Regions from separate parts of the Homo sapiens genome. Here region 1 is linked to region 2. A link means that fine-mapping ties the variant in region 2 to the expression of a gene that starts in the linked region. Tissue or cell type: whole blood. Region 2 holds a variant in brackets; the other region holds the start of a gene. All regions are shown on one strand. Distances are from middle to middle.

Region 1 (10,560 bases), 340 kb before region 2:
AGTGGAGGAGGGTGTGCCACTGCCCACTGCCATTCCAGCCTGGGCGACAGAGACCCTGTCTCCAAAAAAAAAAAACTAGAATGGTGGGGTGCGATGGCTTACGCCTGTAATCCCAGCACTTTGGGAGGTCGAAGCGGGCAGATCACTTGAGGTCAGGAGTTCAAGACTAGCCTGACCAATGTGGTGAAACCCCCGTCTCTACTAAAAATACAAAAATTAGCCGGGCGTGGTGGCGGGCGCCTGTAATCCCAGCTGCTCAGGAGGCTGAAGCTGGAGAATCGCTTGAACCCGGGAGGAGGAGGTTGCAGTGAGCCGAGACAGCGCCATTGCACTCCAGCCTGGGTGTCACAGTGAGACTCCATCTCAAAAAAAAAAAAAAAAAAAAAAAGACTAGAAAGGTGGGTGACCTTGGATTCATGATACTACTGCTGGAACTCATTTTCCTCTGGAGATAACGAGGGTAGTGACCGATTCTAGTTTTATGTAATTGTTTAGGGGAGTTTTCTTAAGCAATGCCCGTCAAGTGCTTGGCATATGAACCCTTAGCTGTTAGTATCTCTGTGTTAGGCCTATCGACTTTGGTAGGGGTGATGGGGCAGGCGGTGCAGCTGGAGAGGCCCGATCACGAAGGGCCCTAAATGTCAGAGCACAGAGCGTGGGCTGAATCCTGTGCCCCGGAGAGCGGTGGGAAGGATTCGTAGAGGGGAATGTGCTGCTTAGACATGCATTTTGGAAGCCCCCTTCCCTGCAGAGAATCCAGGACTGGTCCAGTAGAGGAGACGGGGAGATGGGGTAGGGTGTCCGCTCACTTTCTAGCAGGTCCACCTCAAAGTCCTTGGTGGGCAGACGCACGGAGTTGAAGCCCCAGGTGGGGATGTGGCCTTCCAGCGGTGGCTTCCCCGACAACACGCGCAGGAACGTGCTCTTGCCTGCGCCATCCAGCCCCAGCACCAGCACCTCGCGCTGTTCCAGCTCCTCCAGCGCCGGCTCCTCGTCCTCCTCGTCCTCGGGCTGCGGGGAAGCGGAGGTAAGGTTGCGGCTGGCGGCCTCCCGAAGGACCTTTCCCGAGGGAAGACCGAAGGCACCAGAGGGCCCAGGCCCGCCTTCCACCCGTCCTGGGACAGGCAGGCATGGTCTGGATGAGTGGGACGAACGCCGCCTTTGCAGTCCTGAATTCCAAACCCTTGGCGAATTCCTTAAACGCTCGCGCGCCCCGCTTCCTCCACCGGTCTCGGAGTCCCGACCGCAGGCGGGAGGGGATGGGGTTTCTCCCGACATCCCCACCCCCGGGCGGGGTGCACTGCGCAGGCGCCGGAGGGGCGCGAGCCGACCCGGCTGGGCCCCGGGATGCTCCCGAGCCGCGCCCTCCAAACTCCGGCCCCCGCTGGAACACCCGAGCCTCATGGCGTGGAGCGACGGCGTGGCGCCAAGGCGCCGCACGCACCCAAGCACACCCACCCGTTCCTCGGTTCCCGGGCTCTGACCGCCCACCCGCGCGGGGCCTGTGCGCTGCGGCTGCCAAGCCCTCGACCCCCCAAGCTCCCGGCACCAGCAGGGCCGTTCCGTGGTCACACCCCTTGGCCACATGCGCGGAGTCGCAGCCCAGCCTGCCCGCCCTTCCGCAGGCCTCGGCCCGGCACTCACGTCCCACTCGTCCCACTCGGGGAGGCGGGCAGCCTCCGCGCCCCACCAGGCCTCTCCCCGGTCCCAGCGCCGCTCTCGGCCGCGGCCGAAGTAGGTCTTCCAGAGGATGAAGAGCACCGAGCCCAGCACCGCCGCGGCGCCGCCCAGCGCCAGCACCAAGGGGCCCAGCGGCCGCGGCGCCATCGGGCCGGGCGAGGGACGCAGGTGCGGGTTGCACAGGCCGAGCCCACTCGCCCGCCGAAGATGGCCCCGCTGCGACTGCTGCGGCCGCGCCCACCCACCCAGACCCAGTCCCGCACTACAAGCCCCACAATGCACTGCCGCTGTCACGGCAGGCCGCCCGGGACCCGGCGGCGTGGGTGGTGGGGCGCTGGCCGGCGCGCGGGGACCTCCGGTCCCCCTGCCAGGTGCAGGGTGGAGGAAGGAGAGGCTGTGCCTGGGGAGGACGGGAGACGGCGGTGCTTGCTAGCATCCACCAGGGGTTAGCTCACGGCTTTTCTCCGTTACCCCTTACAATGATACCACGCAGAAGGGAAAACCGAGGCCCAGGAGTTAAGTAACCCGCCCAACGCCGCATCGTAGTGCTTTGGTGTAGCCTGCGTTCAAACCCAAGCGATCTGTCTCCCGGTCATCCCTCAAGACCTCGGGAGGAAATTGAAGCAAGACGCCCGATATCACACGGCAGTGGGGTGGCAGAGGCAGGAATAGAACCCAGGTCCGTGGCTCCCCGCCACCTCTAGCCTTCTTTCGCTGCCTCCCGGACCACAGGGGTTTTGCTGGGGTCCTGGTCAGGCTGAATTAAGCAGTGTCAGGACTTCAGAATGTTTAGGGCTGACTGCCTTGTCCTAGGTACCCCCAGTGACTGCCAAGGCTTCCACGTGTGTAGCACGAGGAGGAAGAACAGGAGAAACGACCTGAGTACAGCAGTCGGGTTCTTTTGGCTCTCCAGAGGGGTGACGCCATGTACGGCTGGCTGTAGGGTACATGGGTCGAGAGACCGCCTGTGGCTCTCAGGGCCCAGCAGGGCTACCTCTTCCCCTTTATATTGTCTCAACTCTTCACCTCCTTTTAGTTTGCGATTCCTCTGTACCCCTGGCTCTGGGTCCCAGCCCCTATTCCTTCTGATTTGTCCCCCTTTCCCTTTGACTACATATATATGCTCCTCTCCTCCCAGATAGTGATGTTTTAGCTACATCTTATTTCTTCCGGCATTGATTCTTTTGAAAAATTTATTTCTGGCCGGGTGTGGTGGCTCATGCCTGTAATCCCAGCACTTTGGGAGGCCGAGGCAGGCGGATCACCTGAGGTCAGGAGTTCGAGAATAGCCTGCCTAACATGGTGAAACCCCATCTCTACAAAAATTAGCCGGGCGTGGTGGCACGTGCCTGTAATCCCACCTACTCAGGAGGCTAAGGCAGGAGAATCGCTTGAACCCAGGAGGAGGAGGTTGCAGTGTGCTGAGATTGCGCCACTGCCCTCCAGCCTGGGTGACAGAGCAAGAATCCGTCTCAAAAAAAAAAAAAAAGAAAAAAAAATTAGCTCCTCCTCAAAAATACACCCACTTAGAGGGGAAAACCCACAAAATTGCTAAGATTAAAAGTTTGGCTGGTGCGGTGGCTCACGCCTGTGATCCCAGCACTTTGGGAGGCCGAGGCAGCCGGCCGGATCACGAGGTCAGGAGATCGAGACCATCCTGGCTAACACGGTGAAACCCCATCTCTACTGAAAATCCAAAAAATTAGCCGGGCGTGGAGCCGGGCGTGGTGGCAGGCGCCTGTAGTCCCAGCTACTTGGTAGACTGAGGCAGGAGAATCGCTTGAAACTGGGAGGCAGAGGTTACTGTGAGCCGAGATTGCGCCACTGCATTCCAGCCTGGGCAACAGAGCGAGACCTTGTCTCAAAAAAAAAAAAAAAAAAAATGTTTACAGTCTATTATTTGTGGAAAAGAAATAGGTGCTCTCACATAGGTGCTATGCACCAAGACCATGACAGCTTCAGACATTGGTACCACAAATATCAGGGATAAAGTTTTTTTTTTTTTTGAGATGGAGTCTCACTCTGTAGCCCAGGCTGGAGTGCAGTAGTGTGATCTCAGGCCTCCCAAAGTGCTGGGATTACAGGCATGAGCCACCACACCCAGCCAGAAATAAATTTTTCAAAAGAATCAATGCCGGAAGAAATAAGATGTAGCTAAAACATCACTATCTGGGAGGAGAGGAGCATATATATGTAGTCAAAGGGAAAGGGGGACAAATCAGAAGGAATAGGGGCTGGGACCCAGAGCCAGGGGTACAGAGGAATCGCGAACTAAAAGGAGGTGAAGAGTTGAGACAATATAAAGGGAAAGAGGTAGCCCTGCTGGGCCCTGAGAGCCACAGGCGGTCTCTCAACCCATGTACCCTACAGCCAGCCGTACATGGCGTCACCCCTCTGGAGAGCCAAAAGAACCCGACTGCTGTACTCAGGTCGTTTCTCCTGTTCTTCCTCCTCGTGCTACACACGTGGAAGCCTTGGCAGTCACTGGGGGTACCTAGGACAAGGCAGACTGCAGCCTCCGTCTCCCAGGTTCAAGAGATTCTCCTGCCTCAGTCTCCAGAATAGCTGGGATTACAGGCACCTGTCACTACGCCTGGCTGATTTTTGTATTTTAGTAGAGACGGGGTTTCGCCGTGTTGGCCAGGATGGTCTCGAACGCCTCAGCCTCTGAAAGTGTTGGGATTACAGGCCTGAACCACCGTGCCCAGCCAGAAAAAGTTGTTTTAATCAAATAGTAACTTCCAGGAAAGTCTTAAGTTTTCATGTATTTGTGGCTAAGAAATAAATGAGATGATCCCACCTTATGATCTACATAAGGGTGCAAAGTGCTATTTCTTCCTTTTCTGACTGAGAGGTGATATACATCCCTTCCTGTGGTGGATAAAGAGCAAGGTGCCAGCTTTGCTTCCACAGAGGTTAAAAAATATGGCATATTTTAAAAGCTCCAAATTAACAAAGGAACACCTTTAACACACACACGCACGCACACATATACACACAATTATACTGCAATGTAATTGTGCTGTTGATAAGCTAATTATAGAATTCATCAAAGACTTTAATTCTTAGTGCACTCAAGCACCCTGGTCTGGAAACAGCGCTTAAGTTTCAAGTCGCATGAGCAAGGCCTCTCAGTTCTGCCAGTACGGCTGGAAGCCTCAAATGCTGAAATCTAAATGTGACATTCACCCTGCACCACCAATCATAGCTCTCCTGAGATGAGTTTTGATGGCGAGCTTTGGACTGGGGTAGAAACGTGGATAGATTTTTGCAAATTCTGCTGTAACTTCGTTGCTTCGCCTTCTTTGTGAACCCTTCAGGGATAAGAGAAGTCTTCCTTCAGGATGTGACTGACACCTCAGCTGGCGCCTCTAAGCCTCACTCTCCTTTATGTAAAAGAGAAATGATATTAGGATCGCCTTCCCTAGGGGAGGCAGGTGAGGTCGGTTCCCTTTTTTGGTTCAGCTACTAGTACGAACCCTGCCTAACCCCGCTGTTTTGGGAGACAGTCCGTGCTCACTGCACCGCTTGCTAATCGAAGTGACTTCTCATCTCTCCCAGTCTCAGCTTCACCTCCGTGAAGTGGGAAAAACAGGATGACAAGTGCTCGCACTTGGCAGCCCTTTTTGAGCCTTGAGGGCTTGGGTTTGTGGGTGTCATTTTACTATGCTACCTCCGTCTTCCCTTAGCTTGTCACGGACCCAGGCACAGCACACGCGCTGAGGAAGTGGTGGTGAAGTGTGGCGTTTCCTCTCGGGGCTGGCGGATTCCACACTCGGAGCTGCGGCTCCACAACTCGCTGGGCGGCGAAGGGCATGGGGAGGGGGCGGGTCTCGCGATCGTGGACAACAACTCCCAGCATGCCCTGTGCTCCGCTGGGCCAAGTCTCGCGCGAGATCCCGCGGTCTCCGGAGGCTTTATCTGCAGTGCTGCCTGCCCGCTGGGTGGTACTGCTACCTAGTGGGTCTTGGGGACCTTCGAAATCGCCGCCGCTCTCACAATGGCTTGGGTCCAGACTGCGCCACAGCCTCTCGGGAGACGTGGGCCCTCGGAACCTTTTTAGTGCCGGACTCCGGGCCGCAGGCAGTCCCGCGGCAGCAGGATCACAGGTGAACAGATGGCGGGCCTGGGCCCTCCCTTGGGGCTGCGTTCTCTGGCGATCAGGAGGGGCGCTTCCGGCGAGGCCCGATCTCGGGGCCCCTCCAAGCCACTCCCCTCTCCCCGCACCTCTTAACCCTTCATCCCGGCTTCGAGCTCGGCTGGGTCGCCTCTTGCCTCCCTGGCTCCGCTCTCTGGGGTCTCCGTAATGGGGCTTCTCTCCGGGAATGCCCTGCAGCTCCCGTACGGGCTTCCCCTCCGCTTCGTGGGACCAGCCCAGCCCGAGCCCCCGCGGCTTGTCCTCAACCTCATCTCCCCACACCCCGCCTTCGGCTAGGGTCCTGGCCCTAATCTTAGCCTGGAGGGGTGGGTGAAGCAGCCGGCCTTTCGTATCCTGGCGGCACCGTCTTGTATATTGTGAAGGAGAGGCAGAGGGACGGTGAGCTGGGGGGTGGGGGCACAGGGAAAGGGAAAGGGGAAGGGGACGTGTCTGGGGCGGGAATGCTCCCTGGACTGGGAGGATGGCTGAATTCGGCCTTTGCGATGCTCGTTAGTGAAGAACTATCAATAACTTGTTTGCTCTGTCTGAGTCCTATCGGGATAGAGGGACGGTGTAGCAAGCTGAAAAACAAGAGTAACTTTCTCAGGCCCTCGTTTTAACTCCCCTGTAAACTGGGCATGAAACTACCTACCTTGCGCACGGACCACTTATCTGTGACCGTGGACAAATTTACTTAACTCCTCTGATTTTTAGTTTCCTTCTCTTTATTATTATTTTTAACATTTTTTTAATTTTTTTAATTTTTATTTTTGAGACCGAGTCTCACTCCGTCGCCCAGGCTGGAGTACAGTGGCTCGATCTCGGCTCACTGCAACCTCCGCCTCCCGGGTTCAAGCTATTCTCCTGCCTCAGCCTCCCGAGTAGCTGGGATTACAGGCGCCCGCCACCATGCCCGGCTAATTTTTGTATTTTTAGTAGAGATGGGGTTTCACCATGTTGGCCAGGCTAGTCTCGAACTCCTGACCTCAAGTGATCTGCCCGCCTGGGTCTCGCAAAATGCTGGGATTACAGGCGTGAGCCACCGCACCCGGCCAGTTTCCTTCTCTTTAAATTTGGGATAGCCTTTCTGTAAGAGATAGCTTAAAAAAAAAACTGGGGTCGGGCGCGGTGGCTCACGCTTGTAATCCTAGCACTTTGGGAGGCCGAGGTGGGCGGATCGCAAGGTCAGGAGATCAAGACCATCCTGGCTAGTGCGGTGAAACCCCATCTCTACTAAAAATACAAAAAATTAGCCAGGCGTGGTGGCAGACGCCTGTAGTCCCAGCTACTTGGGAGGCTAAGGCAGGAGAATGGCGTGAACCCGGGAGGTGGAGCTTGCAGTGAGCCAAGATCGCGCCACTGCACTCCAGCCTGGGCGACAGAGTGAGACTCCGTCTCAAAAAAAAAAAAAAAAAAAAATTGGGATTGGGATAAATAATATCTGCTTTGCCATCTTGCTGCAAGGATTAAAAGACAAGATAAACGCTGTAAATAGTTTATAGTGTTAGCTATAAAGAACAAATTTCCCTACTGTAGTATCTAGCCGCTTGCTGTGAGTTAAGAAAATGAAATGAGCAAGGTTGTTGTGGGGAATAAACAAGTGTTTGGCAGACTCTGACGGGCTGTTCCAATGCTGGCTGTTTGTTGTTATTAGAACCTCTGGATGGACTCTTCCTGGGAAGCTTTGCTACTTTGCAGCAGCTGGACCATGTTCCTCATTAACATCTGTCTGTCCGCTTAGTCATCACATCATTTCACTGTGGTAAGGTGACTTTTTCACCATGTATGGCATCTTAGCTCTGTCATCTCACAGGTGTTAAGATCAGCCACAGGTGTGGTGAGACGTTTGACTTTATCCTTCTTTTTTCATTGGCATGTTTGTCACCCACTGGCTCTTGCATGTGTGTTTCAACCTTGTAAACAAGCCGTTCAATTCTGTGTGCCTGCCAGAAGAACAGCATTGGTGCTGCTCACCATAAGAAAATGCCCTTTGTTATTTTATTAGGTGGCAGGGACTCAGCTCGGAATTCTGTATAGAAAAAGCACCTGGATCCCAGTCTTTCAATGGCTTCAAGACAACCAGAAGTGCCTGGTAAACTTAATTCTTTTTGGTAAAATCATGTTTTGCCCTTATTAATGTTTTAAGCTAGACAGAAACCATTTTATCGGAACTATATATTAATGGTTAATCTCTGCTACCAAGCGAGTATTTAGATTTACTAGATTGGCTTATTTTATTTTATTTTATTTTTTTGAGATGGAGTCTTGCTCTGTTGCCCAGGCTGGAGTGCAGCGGCACAATCTCGGCTCACTGCTACCTCCGCTTCCTGGGTTCAAGCCATTCTCCTGCCTCAGCCTCCCCAGTAGCTGGGATTACAGGTGCCCGCCACCACACCCAGCTAATTTTTGTATTTTTTGTAGAGACGGGGTTTCACCATATTGGCCAGGCTGGTCTGGAACTCCTGACCTTTTTTTTTTTTTTTTTTTTTGAGACAGAGTCTTGCTCTGTCGCCCAGGCTGGAGTGCAGTGGCGCGATCTCAGCTCACTGCAAGCTCCGCCTCCCGGGTTCACACCATTCTCCTGCCTCAGCCTCCCGAGTAGCTGGGACTACAGGCGCCCACCACCATGCCCAGCTAATTTTTTGTATTTTTAGTAGAGACGAGGTTTCACCGTGTTAGCCAGGATGGTCTCGATTTCTTGACCTTGTGATCCGCCCGCCTCGGCCTCCCAAGGTAATGGGATTACAGGCGTGAGCCACCGTGCCCGGCGGAACTCCTGACCTTGTGATCTGCCTGCCTCGGCCTCCCAAAGTGTTGGGATTACAGGTGTGAGCCACCACGCCCAGCCAGTTTTATTTTATTTTTGAGTCTCACTCTGCTGCCCAGGCTAGAATACAGTGGTGTGATCTCAGCTCACTGCAACCTCCGCCTCCTGGGCTCAAGTGATTCTCCTGCCTCAGCCTCGAGTAGCTGGGATTACAGCTGCCTGCCACCACGCCCGGCTAATTTTTGTATTTTTAATAGAGACAGGGTTTCTCCATGTTGGCCAGGCTGGTCTCAAACTCCTGACCTCAGGTGATCCTTCCACCTTGGCCTCCCAAAGTGCTGGGATTACAGGTGTGAGCCACCACGCCTAGCCTTAGATTGGCATCATTTAAATATTTTATTAGCCGCTCAGCCATAGTATGAAACTTTAACTTAAAGAGAATAGTCACTTCATTTAAGGGTATTATGACAAGTTTGTTACTTTCCTAGTTATCAAATAATAATTCAGAATAAGTTGTGCAGTTCTTGTAGTATGTACCAAAGTGATTAAACTCACCTTTTTGGGGGTGATGGGGAGGTGGGATGGAAGTCTTGGTAAAAAGGCACCAGCCTGCTTAAATGGCAGATTGAACTTAATCATGAAAATGCTCACAGCAACCCTTAATGAGTCAAGTTCTGGGTTATTGACACCATTGATGACTACTTGAATTGTTTTATGAGAAAGGAAAGTGATTTTTAATTACATCTGAATCGCTTAATTTCTGATTCTCGGTAAAGTATGATGATGAAGAAAGATGATGGTTCCTATCTCTCGGGGTTGTGAAGATTAAACAAAATATGTAAAAACAGGAGTTAAAAATCAGTGATAAATATGTATTTACTGCCCAGAATGCATTTGGTCTGTCTTTATATGAACATATTTTCCAGTAAATACTAGCTGACTTTATTTGTTTTAGGATGGCTGTTCAGTGGGAGTCTTTAAGATGTTTTTGAAATTGCTCCCCAAGTCTCCCGTATTCCCCAATATAGATCCATCTCTAGTCTTAACATCATCAGCTCCGTTTTAGTTTGTCTTTCATTGTTGCTGTGATTACCACAAACTCCGTGTAGCCGTCGCGAGCCATAGGATTGTGCCCATTCAGTGAATGCTTTGTAGTGTGTTGCATGCAGAGTGTGTGCACCGGCTCAGGTCTGTGTTCCAGTTCCCAGCACACTCTTTCAAGCTAGGTGATATTGGGCAAGTTGATTGTGAAAATGGAAAATTTGAAAATGGGAAGAATATCTGCTTCATGAGGATTAGATAAGATGAGGGATGTAATTGTCTAGCAAGGAGGAAGACTTAGTAATTATTATTTGCTTGTGTGTGTGTTTGAGATGTAATGCACATATCATAAAATTCACCCACTGAAAGTGAACAATGTCGTGATTTTTAGTATATTCACAGGGTTGTGCAAACAACACTACGATCAATTGCAGCACATTTTCTTTTCTTTTCTTTTTTTTTTTGAGATGGAATCTCGCTCTGTTGCCTAGGTTGGAATGCAGTGGCACGATCTTGGCTCTCTGCAACCTCCGCCTCCTGGGTTCAAGCAATTCTCCTGCCTCAGTCTCCCAAGTAGCTGGGACTACAGGCACGTACCACCACGCCTGGCTAATTTTTGTATTTTGAGTAGAGATGGGATTTCACCATGTTGGCTAGGCCGGAACGCCTGACCTCAGGTGATCCACCCACATCAGCCTCCCAAAGTGCTGGGATTACAGGTGTGAGCCACCACACCCATCCAAACTGCAGTACGTTTTCATAACCTCCAAAGGAAAACCTCGTACCATTAGCAGTCGTATCCTCACTCCCCCCACCCACTCCCTGGCAACCTCTAATCCTCTTTTTATTTCTATGGTTTTGTTAATTATTACTAATAGCAATAGTAATAATAATGATAGCTGCTTGGTCCCCTTGCCGTTTAAATGAAACCTTT
Region 2 (11,170 bases):
GGTGTTGCAATTGATTTTGAGGACGACCTAGTCATAGATTGTTTCCCAAGGCCAATGTCCTGAATGGTATTTCCTAGGTTTTCTTTTAGAGTTCTTATGGTTTGAGGCCTTACACTTAAATCTCTGATCCAGTGGCAAGACCCACCATCTTCAAGGACTCATCTCACGTGTAACAACATCCACAGGCTCAAAGTAAAGGGATGGAGAAATATCTACCATGCAAAAGTCACCATTTTTTTTTTTTTTTTTTTTTTTTGGAGATGGGCTCTGTCACCGAGGCTGGAGTGCACTGGTGTGATTATGGCTCGCTGCACTCAACCTCCCAAGTGATCCTCCCACCTCAACCTCCTGAGTAGCTGGGACTACAGGCATGCACCACCACACCTGGTTAATTTTTGTATTTTGTGGTAGAGATGGGGTTTTGCCACGTTGCCCAGGCTGATTTCCAACTCCTGTGCTCAAACAATCCACTTGCTTCAGCCTTCCAAAGTGCTAGGATTACAAGTCTGAGCCACCGCGTCCAGCCCAGGCATTGCTATTCTTAGATAAAACAAATGGTAAAGCAATAAAAATTAAGTAGGACAATGAAGGCCATTATATAATGATGAAGGGTACAATCCAACAAGACTTAACTATCTTAAATATATATTCACCCAACGTTGGAACAACCGATTCATAACACAAGTTCTTCTTGGCCTACAACATGACTTAGACAACCACACAGTTGAGGGAGACCTCAACTCCCCACTGACAGCGTTAGACAGATCATTAACACAGAAAATTAACAAGGAAACTGGACTTAAACTCAACACTTGACCAGTTAGACCTAATAGTTTTCTACAGAACACTCCACTCAACAACCACAGAATATACATTTTTCTCATCTGCACAGGTAAGACTCTCTAAGATCAATCGCATGCTCAGTCATGAAGCAAGCCTCAATAAATTTAAAACAAACCTGGACGGGTGCGGTGGCTCATACCTGTAATCCCAACACTTTGGGAGGCCGAGGCGGGCGGATCATGAGGTTAGGAGTTCGAGACCATCCTGGCTAACACAGTGCAACCCCATCTCTACTAAAAATACAAAAAAAAAAAAAAATTAGCCAGGGGTGGTGGTGGGCGCCTGTAGTCCCAACTACTCGGGAGGCTGAGGCAGGAGAATGGCATGAACCCGGGAGGTGGAGCTTGCAGTGAGCCGAGATTGCGCCACTGCACTCCAGGCTGGGCGACAGAGCGAGACTGTCTCAAAAAAAAAAAAAAAAAAAAAGAATGTAAATTTATTTTCTGATAGTTCTAGAGGCTAGGAAATCCAAGATGAAGGTGCTAGCAGGTTAGGGCCTGGTTTCTCTGCTTCCAAGGTGGTGCCTTGAGCACTGTGTCTTCCAGAGAGGAGAAACACCGTGTTCTCACATGGCAGGAGGTGGGGGCAGGGAGACAGAGATAGAAACTGCTTCCATGGGCCCTTTTTATAGTGGCGTTTCCATTCATGAGCTATACACCTCCCATTGGTCCCCACCTGCCCATACTGTTCCATTGGGCATTAAGCTTTCAACACATGAGTTTTGAGAGATACATTCAAACCATAGCATCCCTTTGTTATTTAGGAGTGTGACATTTAATTTTTCTATGTTTGTGAATTTCCCAAATGGTCTTCTGTTATTGAATTCTAATTTCTACTGTGGCCACAGAATGTACTTTATATGATTTCAGTCTTTCTAAATTTATTGAGGTTTGTTTTATGGCCTAGCACATGGTATGTCTTGGAGAATGTACTGTGTGTGCTTGAGAAGAATGTGTGTTCTGCCTCTGTTGGTTGGAGTGTTCTGTAGATATCTGTTAGTCTGGTTGGATTAACAATGTTCACATCTTCTATATCCTTGTTAATCTTTCATCTAGCTGTTGTATCTGTTCTCGAAAGTTGGGTATGGAAGGCTGGGCATGGTGGCTCACGCCTGTAATCCCAGCACTTTTGGAGGCAGAGGCAGGCAGATCACGAGGTCAGCAGATCGAGACCATCCAGGCTAACACGGTGAAACCCCATCTCTACTAAAAATACAAAAAAAAATCAGCCCGGCATGGCGGCGGGCACCTGTAGTCTCAGCTACTTGGGAGGCTGAGGCTGGAGAATGGTGTGAACCCCAGAGGCGGAGCTTGCAGTGAGCCAAGATAGAGCTCCATTGCACTCCAGCCTGGGCGACAGAGGGAGACTCCATCTCAAAAAAAAAAAAAAAAAAAAGAAAGTTGGGTATGGAAGTCTCCAACTATTACTGTTCAATTGTCCATTTCTCCTTTCAGTTCTGTGGTTCATTTTTGCATCATATTGGGTCTCTTTCGTTAGTTGCATATGTTTATAACCGTTGTGTCTTCCTGATGAATTGACACTTTGTTCATTATAAAATGTCCCTCTTTATCACTTGTAACATTTTAATTTATTTTTTATTATTTATTTATTTATTTATTTAATTTTTGGGACAGGGTCTCTTGCTCTGTCACCCATGCTGGAGTGCAGTGGTGCCATCTCTGCTCACTGCAAGCTCCGCCTCCCAGGTTCAAGTGATTCTCCTGCCGCAGCCTCCCTAGTAGCTGAGATTACAGGCACTTGCCACCAACCCAGATAATTTTTGTATTTTTGGTAGAGATGGGGTTTCACCATGTAGGCAAGGCTGGTCTTGAACTCCTGAGCGTAAGTGATCCACCCACCTCCGCCTCCCAAAGTGCTGGGATTACAGGCGTGAGCCACCACGTCCGGCCTCTTGTAACATTTTTACAGTCTATTTTGTCTCATATTGATATAGCCATTCCAGCTTGCTATGGTTGCTGTTTTCACGGTATGTCTTTTTCCCATCTTTTTACTTTCAGCCTGTTTGTATCTTTGAATCTAAAGTGTATTTCCTGTAGACAGCATATAGTTTGTTTTTTAACCAAGCCTGACATCTCTGCCTTCTAATTGGATTGTTTAATCTGTTCACATTTAAGGATTTTGTTATATGGTTGGATCTGTGTCTGTCATTCATGTTTTCTATGTCTCATGTCTTTCTTTGTTCTCTCCTACCTTATTTACTACATTCTTTTGCATTCAGTAAATATTTTCCAGTGTCACATTTTGGTTACTTTAATAATTCTTTAACTATATTTTTCAGTTCTTTTCTTTGTGGTTCCTCAAGAGAGGGGATGAGAAATGCTGGCAGCCCATGCCTCCCAGTGTGATATGGTGAGCTTGAGTGGCAGCTGAGCAAGGAGGGAACCACCTACTCTTAACCCGACCTACCTGGAGCAGAGCCTCCATCACTCTGAGCTGGGGGAAGGAGGAGAAGGGAGTGGGTTGTAGCTCAATATCACAGAGACTCATGGTTCTTTCTGAATTTTTGTAGATTTTCTAGAATAAATATTTCTTCATTTGCTGTATGCCCTTAGGACAATTTCCAGACACTTTATTTATTTATTTATTTATTTATTTATTTATTTATTTAGAGACAAAGCCTCACTTTATCACCAGGCTGGAGTGTACTGGCACGATCTCGGCTCAGTGCAGCCTCGAACTTCTGGGCTCAAGGAATCCTCCCACCTCAGCCACCTGAGTAGCTAGGACTGCGGGTGCATGCCACCTTGTCTGGCTAATTTTTAAAAATTAGGTGCATGCCACTGTGCCCAGCTAATTTTTGTATTTTTAGTAGAGACAGGGTTTCACCATCTTGGCCAGGCTGGTCTCGAGCTCCTGACCTCGTGATCCGCCCGCCTCGGCCTCCCAAAGTGCTGAGATTACAGGCGTGAGCTACCACACCCAGCCTGCACCCAGCCAATTTTAACCTTTTAAAGAGCTGGTGAGAGCTGTGGCTCTTGCCTTTTAATTTTAAGTTCTGCTGATACAGACAAGACTTGACTCTTTTTAGAGGCAGGTCTTCAAAGGTTGCGTCGTCGTCCCCCAGCTCCCTGCCGCAGTACACTCTGCTTCGATTCTAAGTCGGGGAGGAGGAGGTTCACCCAGATTGGATCACAGCTTTAATTTGCATTGCTTACAAAATGGATGTCCCCGCAAGCTGACAGAAGCTGTTGTGTGCATGTGTGCACGTGTGTGTGTGTGAATGTACACAACAATTTAAACAGATAGTGGCAGACTATATTTAAAGCCTACAGACTGGCTGTTCATTAAGGAGAAGATGGGAGCAGACACTCACTGGGTTCCCAGGGGAAGCTGACTTTGATGTTGCCCAGGAGCTGGGCTGAGTCTGTGAGGAATAACCAGAGACAGGATTTACCAGGAGAGGCTGTTTTCTGGACGACGTTGAAATATGTGATGCCATTGACTTTGAAACCCGCAGATCATTCTCTTTGTCTTAAGAAAAGTTCTTTCAACATCTTCAAAACAATCTGTCCAGTGGTGGGGGCTGGGGAGAGCGTTCGCAGCATGGCCACTGCGTGCAATCCCCGACCATCCCTGGAGGACCGATTCTCGCTCAGAACCCTTGTTCCTCCTCCTCCCGGCCCCTGTCCTGGTGTTGGTTCCTTTTCTGTGGTGTCCACACATTTCCTTTGCGTTCTGGTTCTGCGTGGGAAGAACCCTGCAGCTTGGGAGCTTTCCATCCATCTCTATTTTTTTTGGTTGGTGACTCTTGGCGGCTCTCTGTGGGGACATTGGTGCTCTCCAAGAAGGTACTTCTTGAATCAGTGACCGACTTCTTCCCCTATAGGTTAATGTCACCAGTTTTAAAACTTCCTACAAATGGAATCATATAGTCTGTGCTTTATTTGCATCTGGCGTCTTTCATGAAATTGTATCACTCATGAGATTCATGTGTGCTGCCCTGCGTAGCAGTAGTTCCATTGTCATTGCTGTGGAGTATTGCACTGCACACACAGACAATTTGTTTCTCCAGTTACCATTGATGGATATTTGCATTGTTTTGAAGTTATTGTGAGTAAGGCTGCTGTGAACATTAGTGTACAAGTCTTGTAGTGGACATGGATTTCATCTCCTGTGGACAAATACCGAAGACAGAATTGATGGTTGTTAGTTAGGTATATTGGTCTGCTTGTGTGGCCATAGCAGAATGCCATAGACTAGGTAACTTAACAGAAATTTCTCACAGTTCTGGTCTGGGCAGTCCAAGGTCAAGGTGCTGGCAAGGTGGATTTCATTCTGAGGCCTCTTCTCTTGGTTTGTGCCTACAAGTTGTCTCCCTATGTGTGTACCTGTGATTACTTCTTTGTGTAGGTGCATGGTGTAGTGAATTCCTACAATTTTATGTTGCCATGGAATCCATTTTTGTTGTTGTTGTTTTTTGAGACAGAATCTCACTCTGTCACCTACACTGGAAGTCAGTGGCGTGATCTTGGCACACTACAACCTCTGCCTCCCGAGTTCAAGCGATTCTGCCTCAGCCTCCCGAGTAGCTGGGATTACAAGCATGCACCACCACGCGTGGCTAATTTTTACATTTTTAGTAGAGACAGGGTTTCACCATGTTGGCCAGGCTGGTGTCAAACTCCTGACCTCAAGTGATCCATCCACCTTAGCCTCCCAAAGTGCTGGGATTACAGTCATGAGCCACCATGCCCGGCCCCCGTTTTGAATTTAAGTTGGACTTTCTCATACCAGAAGCATGGCATAATTACCCTTAACACCATTTCCAGTTCTTTAACTCCTTCCAGTTCCTCAAAGTGGTCAACTCAGATATCTGCCATGTACAGCCACCTCCCAGGCACCACCTCCCTGGAGGGGAGCTGGATACAACGTACTTGACTCACCCTCTGACCCCTCACCCTGCGTGGTCTGCCCTTGACTCACCCTCTGACCCCTCACCCTACGTGGTCTGCCCAGATACACCACAGTGCCCACTTCCCAGTCACAGCATGATCACCTGGAGCTCGTGCCTGCTTGCTCTAAACAATCAATTAGAGCTTCCTATGGGAAACTTGCTGGGGTCACACCCTGGACCCCAATAAAGGCTTTAGTCCTAGAGGTCCTCTCTCTTTCAGTCCCCACCTGCTGGCTAAACGTGGGTATCCTGAATGGCTCCCCACTTCCTGCTGGCCCTGCGAGGCATGGTGCCCTCCTCTCTCTGGGATCTGTGAGTAATCAACTACTCCTGCTATTTCATGTGTTTTATTGCACACACTGTGTCTCACCTGACTGACACACCCGAACCCAACCCTCCTCATCAGGGCTGCCCTAGAGAGTGGCTGTCTTGGTAGGAATAAATTGAACACAGGTCAGACAACAGCTACAAGGGCATCGTCCTCTATATACAAGCTTCCTGTGAAAGGGACATCTGTCACAGGTTGAGCACTTGGGCATGAGGCCACCTGCCAGGATCAAGAAGGATCCTGTGAAAGGTAAACTGTAAACATTCCTTTTATGAGCAACATGCTTGGTGCCCTGTGAGGGCAGGGTTATTGTTTGTAGCCACTCTCCAGAAAGAGATGCCTCAAGACCACATTAGAAAGAAATTACAACACAGGAAGAGAGAGGGCAAGTTCTCTGGAGTCTCTTTTTATAAGGATGCTAATCCCATTGCAAGGGCCCCATCTTCATGACCTCCTTTAACCCTAATTATCTCCCAAAAGCCCTGTCTCCAAAACCATCACAGTGGAAGTTGGGGCTTCAAGATATGAACTTAGGAGGGGACACAAACATTCTGTCCATAGCAGTAGGTGATGTTTAACTCTATTCCAAACTGCTATAGTTTTCCAAGGTGGTTGTATCACTGTACACCCCCAAGAGCAGTGTATAAGAGTTCTGACCGCTCATATACTCACCAGCACTTGCTAGTGGCATCTTTTTCATTTTAGCCTGACTATATAGTGGTATCTCATTGTAGTTTTAATTTGCATTTCCCGGAAGACAGATGACGTTGAGCACCTTTTCATGTGTTTATGGGCCATTTGTATATATTCCTTTGCAAAATGTCTGCTCAAGTCTCTTGCAAATTAACATCTCAGTCTTAGAAGTCTCTGTGAAACATGCTTATTTGGTAGGAAAGGATACAAGCAGGTCTGAAGACAGTCGAGAATTGCAGTGATGCTGGATGTCCCCAAGTAGACAGAGCAATTTCTTATTCTCCCAGCTGTAAATTAAATTTCATTAAACCTCTAATTGCCGTATAAACTTAAACTGTCC[C/T]TTAGCCGCTTGTTCAAGTTAACTCAACGTAGCCTCTCTTAACTTTCTCCTGGCAAATTTACTTTTCCCAAATGAGGGTTCTGCTGGTGGGAAAGGCCCCTGAAAGGCCCAGCTGAATTTTATCAAACTCAGTTCAGTTATTTCATGTTGGTTAAGAACTTTCATCTCAAGTAATTTACCGGAGGAGAGGCTCTGCATTCTGCTGATATGTTTCTCAATGTTTAGCTGTGGACCTGAGCTGGGGCACAGCCTTGTGCCTTCAGATGGTCCCAGTTGGGAGCAAATTGCTCTACCACCCGTAAGACCTCAGTGTGTCACGTTCCGCTTCATCCCACGGTTCCGATTCTGCAATCATCTTTTACACTTTTCTTATATGACATTTAACAGAAATTGTCTAATAATATAACAAATAAGGACCTGAACCTGTAATCATATTACAGGTTCAGCATATCATTATACCCATGCCAGTTAGTAACACTAATTGAAATCCAAATCTAATCTTCTTGAAGAAGACTAAAGCTATTAGGTTTGAGCAACACGTTTGTAATCGAGCCAGTTCTAACAAGTGGTCCACACTTACTCTATTCTCATTCATGTTATTATTGACATTATCTTAATACTTTCCATTTCTTGGTTTGGCAATACATCAGTCTGAGAAATATGACTTAGTGGTGCAAATAACACGGACTTATGCTGGTCTTAGTCACCTCCAGTGAAGAATCCTATGGGTGGCAACATTTCAATCTTCGCTGCCTGTTTGAGACGATATGATTCTTTTTTCTTCTGAGACGGAGTCTCACTCTGTTGCCCAGGCTGGAGTGCAGTGGTGCCATCTCGGCTCACTGCAACCTCTGCCTCCTGGGTTCAAGCAATTCTCCTGCCTCAGCCTCCCTAGTAGCTGGGACTATAGGTGCGTGCCACCATGCCCAGCTAATTTTTTGTATTTTTAGTAGAGATGGGGTTTCACCGTTTTAGCCAGGATGGTCTCAACCTCCTGACCCCATGATCTGCCCACCGTGGCCTCCCAAAGTGCTGGGATTACAGGTGTGAGCCACCACGCCCAGCCCAATATAATATATTTTAAGCAGGACAAATTCATAAGAGTCTTAAGAGCTCCTTTCATTAACAAACACCAAGTAGCAATAGCTTGTTTAGCAAAGACCAAGTAGCAGCAAATTGTGTTATGTTAATGTCTTGCTACCACAGAATATTCTCTGCAAATATTTCAAGTTAACCTTTAAAGTTTTCCCCTGCAGCTGAATGCCTAAAGCAGCACATTCACAAAGCGCATGATTCTGTGTTGGAGGAACAGAGCCAGGGTGTTCCCAAGGCTTCCAGACACCAGGCAGCTATGACCCACACAGAAGGACAAATCTGAGCAACAATCTTTAAGTTGAGGTAAACGTTTTCTGTCCCAAGAAGGAGAGGTTAATAAATATGGTTAATAAACATACCCATGGGTCTTAACATGAAGAGCTTAGATGATGGATTAGAGCTTCAAAGATTAGATAGGTGTAACTTTTGGGTGATCATCCTCCTGACCAAGTGTTCAGAAATATCTTCTGGCTCAGCAGCCACAGCTTCACCTATTACATTGCCTCACACTATCACATTGCTTCAATGATGTTTGGATTAAATGCAGGGAGCACAGCATGTGAGATTGTCTGTGTCAGACATTGTCCATCAGTGAGAGTAGTCTTTTAAGAAGCACATACAGGCTGGGCTTGTGGATCACACCTGTAATCCCAGCACTTTGAGGGGCTGAAGAGGGAGGATCACTTGAGCCTAGGAGCTCGGGACCAGCCTGGGCAACATAGTGAGAACCTGTCTCTTAAAAGAACAAAAAACAAAAAAAAACCACACACACCCCCCTAAAAATTAGCTGGATGTGGTGGGGGTGGTGTGTGTCTGTAGTCCCAGCTATGCAGGAGGCTGAGGTGGGAGGATTGCTTGAGTCCAGCCGTTGGAGGCTGCAGTGAGCCATGATTGTGCCACTATACTCCAGCCTGGGTGATGGAGAGAGACCCTGATTCCAAAAAAGGAAAATCTAAATTAAAAAACAAACAAAAAAAAGCAGCTAAGCGCAGTGTCTTACACCGGTAATCCCAGCACTTTGGGAGGCCGAGGTGGGTGGATCACCTGAGGTCAGAAGTTTGAGACCAGCCTGGTCGACATGGTGAAACCCTGCCTACACTAAAAATACAAAAATTAGCCAGGTGTGGTGGCACACACCTGTAATGCCAGCTACTCGGGAGGCTGAGGCAGGAGAATCGCTTGAACCTAGTAGGCGGAGGTTGCAGTGAGCCAAGATCCCTCCACTGTGCTCCAGCCTAGGTGACAGGGTGAGACTCTGTCTCAAGAACAAAAACAAAAAAAGCACGCACAGGTATTCAGCAGCTGTTTCTTCTGATGTGTCAAGTGACAGCTCAGGTAAGAAGAACTCACGCTGGCTTTGAAGCCCTAAGCCCTACCAGACCCACTATCTTATAGTAACCTATGAATATAGTGAGTGTGGTTTTCAGTGTTCCTGCAAGGGGCTTGCCAAGTTCAGATACAGTTTACCAACCAGGAGTCAGGCTTGTCATAAGCAGTGTTGCCTAGTAGTGAAACTGATGAGTGTTTCTAGCAGGTTACCAAGGCAATCAGAACTATAAATAAGTTGCTTTAGGAACATAGTTGACGTGCTTTCTTGGTAGGTAGGGGAACTGCGGTAGTAAGCTAACCCAAGGTCAAATTGTTTTACAGAGATGGATAAAGGATTTTGTTAACTCATTTCCTATCCCTATCATCTATCCCCTTGATCTTTGGTTAATTTTTTTTTAATTAAACTTTGATTTTTGAGATAATTGTTGGTTCACATGCTGGTATAATAAATAATCAAAGACATCCTATGTATGCTTCACCCAGCTTCTGCAATGGCAACATCTTGCAAAACTATAGTGTAATAACACACTGCTTATTTTTTTAAATATAGAAAAGAATATAAGTTAATATACTCATGATCACCAGGATTTGAATTATAAAATGGGCCATTAACATCCCACTTATTCCTTAAATAATTAGGTCGTTGTGGCCAGGTGCAGTGCCTCAGGTCTGTAATCCCAGCACTTTGGGAGGCCGAGGCGGGAGGATTACTTGAGGCCAGGAGTTAGAGACCAGCCTGGCTAACATGGTAAAACCCTGTCTCTACTAAAAATACAAAAATTAGCCAGGCATGGTGATGTGCACCTGTAATCCCAGCTACTCAGTAGGCTGAGGCAGGAGAATCACTTGAACCTGGGAGGCGGAGGTTGCAGTGAGCCGAGATTGCGCCACTGTACTCCGTACTCTAGCCTGCCTGGGCAACAGAGCGAGAGTCCACCTCAAAAATTTAAAAAGAATTAAAAAAAAAATTAGCCAGGTGTGGTGGCGCATGCGTGTAGTCCCAGCTACTCGCGAGGCTGAGGCAGGAGAATCACTTGAGCTCAAAGGCAGAGGTTGCAGTGAGCTGAGATCACATCACTCATTCCAGTCTGGGTGACAGAGGGGGACTCTGTTTCAAAAGAAAAAAAAGAAAGGTCATTGTTTGGGTCAAAATAATTTCATAGTATCCATAGTATTTTTGTAAGCAGTGTTATCTAATAGTATGACAGTGCTTAACATGCAAAGTGTAGTATTAATTGACAGAAATAACATATCAAACCAGAGTATAGTATCACTTGTTTTCTAAAAATAAATGCTATTGTGTACACTTGAGGATTACAACATATTATGGGATACATATAGCTAGTACAGCAGTTACTGTAATGAAGCTGATTAACATATCTATCATCTCACGTAGTTACTTTTTTGTGACGAGCAGCTAGAATCTATCGAACACAAATCCCTAGTACATTACAATCGTATTAACCTTAGCCCTCATGTTGTACATTAGATGTCTAGACTCGTTCATCCCACATATCTGCTATTTTGTGTCCTTTGACTCACATCTCCCCATTTCCTCGATCACTTTCATACTTCAGCAAGTGTTTCTTTTAGGTATCTCAAAATTAACATGTTTTTAAAATAGGAT

What was found. PIP is the estimated chance that this variant, and not a neighbour inherited with it, causes the effect.
Region 1: it holds the start of KIAA1191, and the variant in region 2 is fine-mapped to the expression of KIAA1191 in whole blood (GTEx, PIP 0.95).

Annotation. Positions count from the first base shown.
Region 1 is chr5:176,356,831-176,367,390 of GRCh38, reverse strand. It overlaps KIAA1191, which reads left to right and starts at 5,627. Exons shown (of 9, transcript NM_020444.5): 1 at 5,627-5,789; 2 at 7,473-7,580; 3 at 7,824-7,910. The coding sequence starts at 7,883. It overlaps ARL10 (ARF like GTPase 10), which reads right to left and starts at 1,904. Exons shown (of 4, transcript NM_173664.6): 1 at 1,645-1,904; 2 at 810-1,011. The coding sequence starts at 1,827. RefSeq lists a silencer at 1,650-2,039 and enhancers at 2,190-2,439, 5,552-5,871.
Region 2 is chr5:176,016,017-176,027,186 of GRCh38, reverse strand. The region is part of intron 3 of LOC124900194 (a long non-coding RNA gene); the gene reads left to right. Among named protein-coding and RNA genes, the nearest start is that of THOC3-AS1, 49 kb to the right of the region's middle. The variant C/T (reference allele first, on the strand shown) is at 7,120.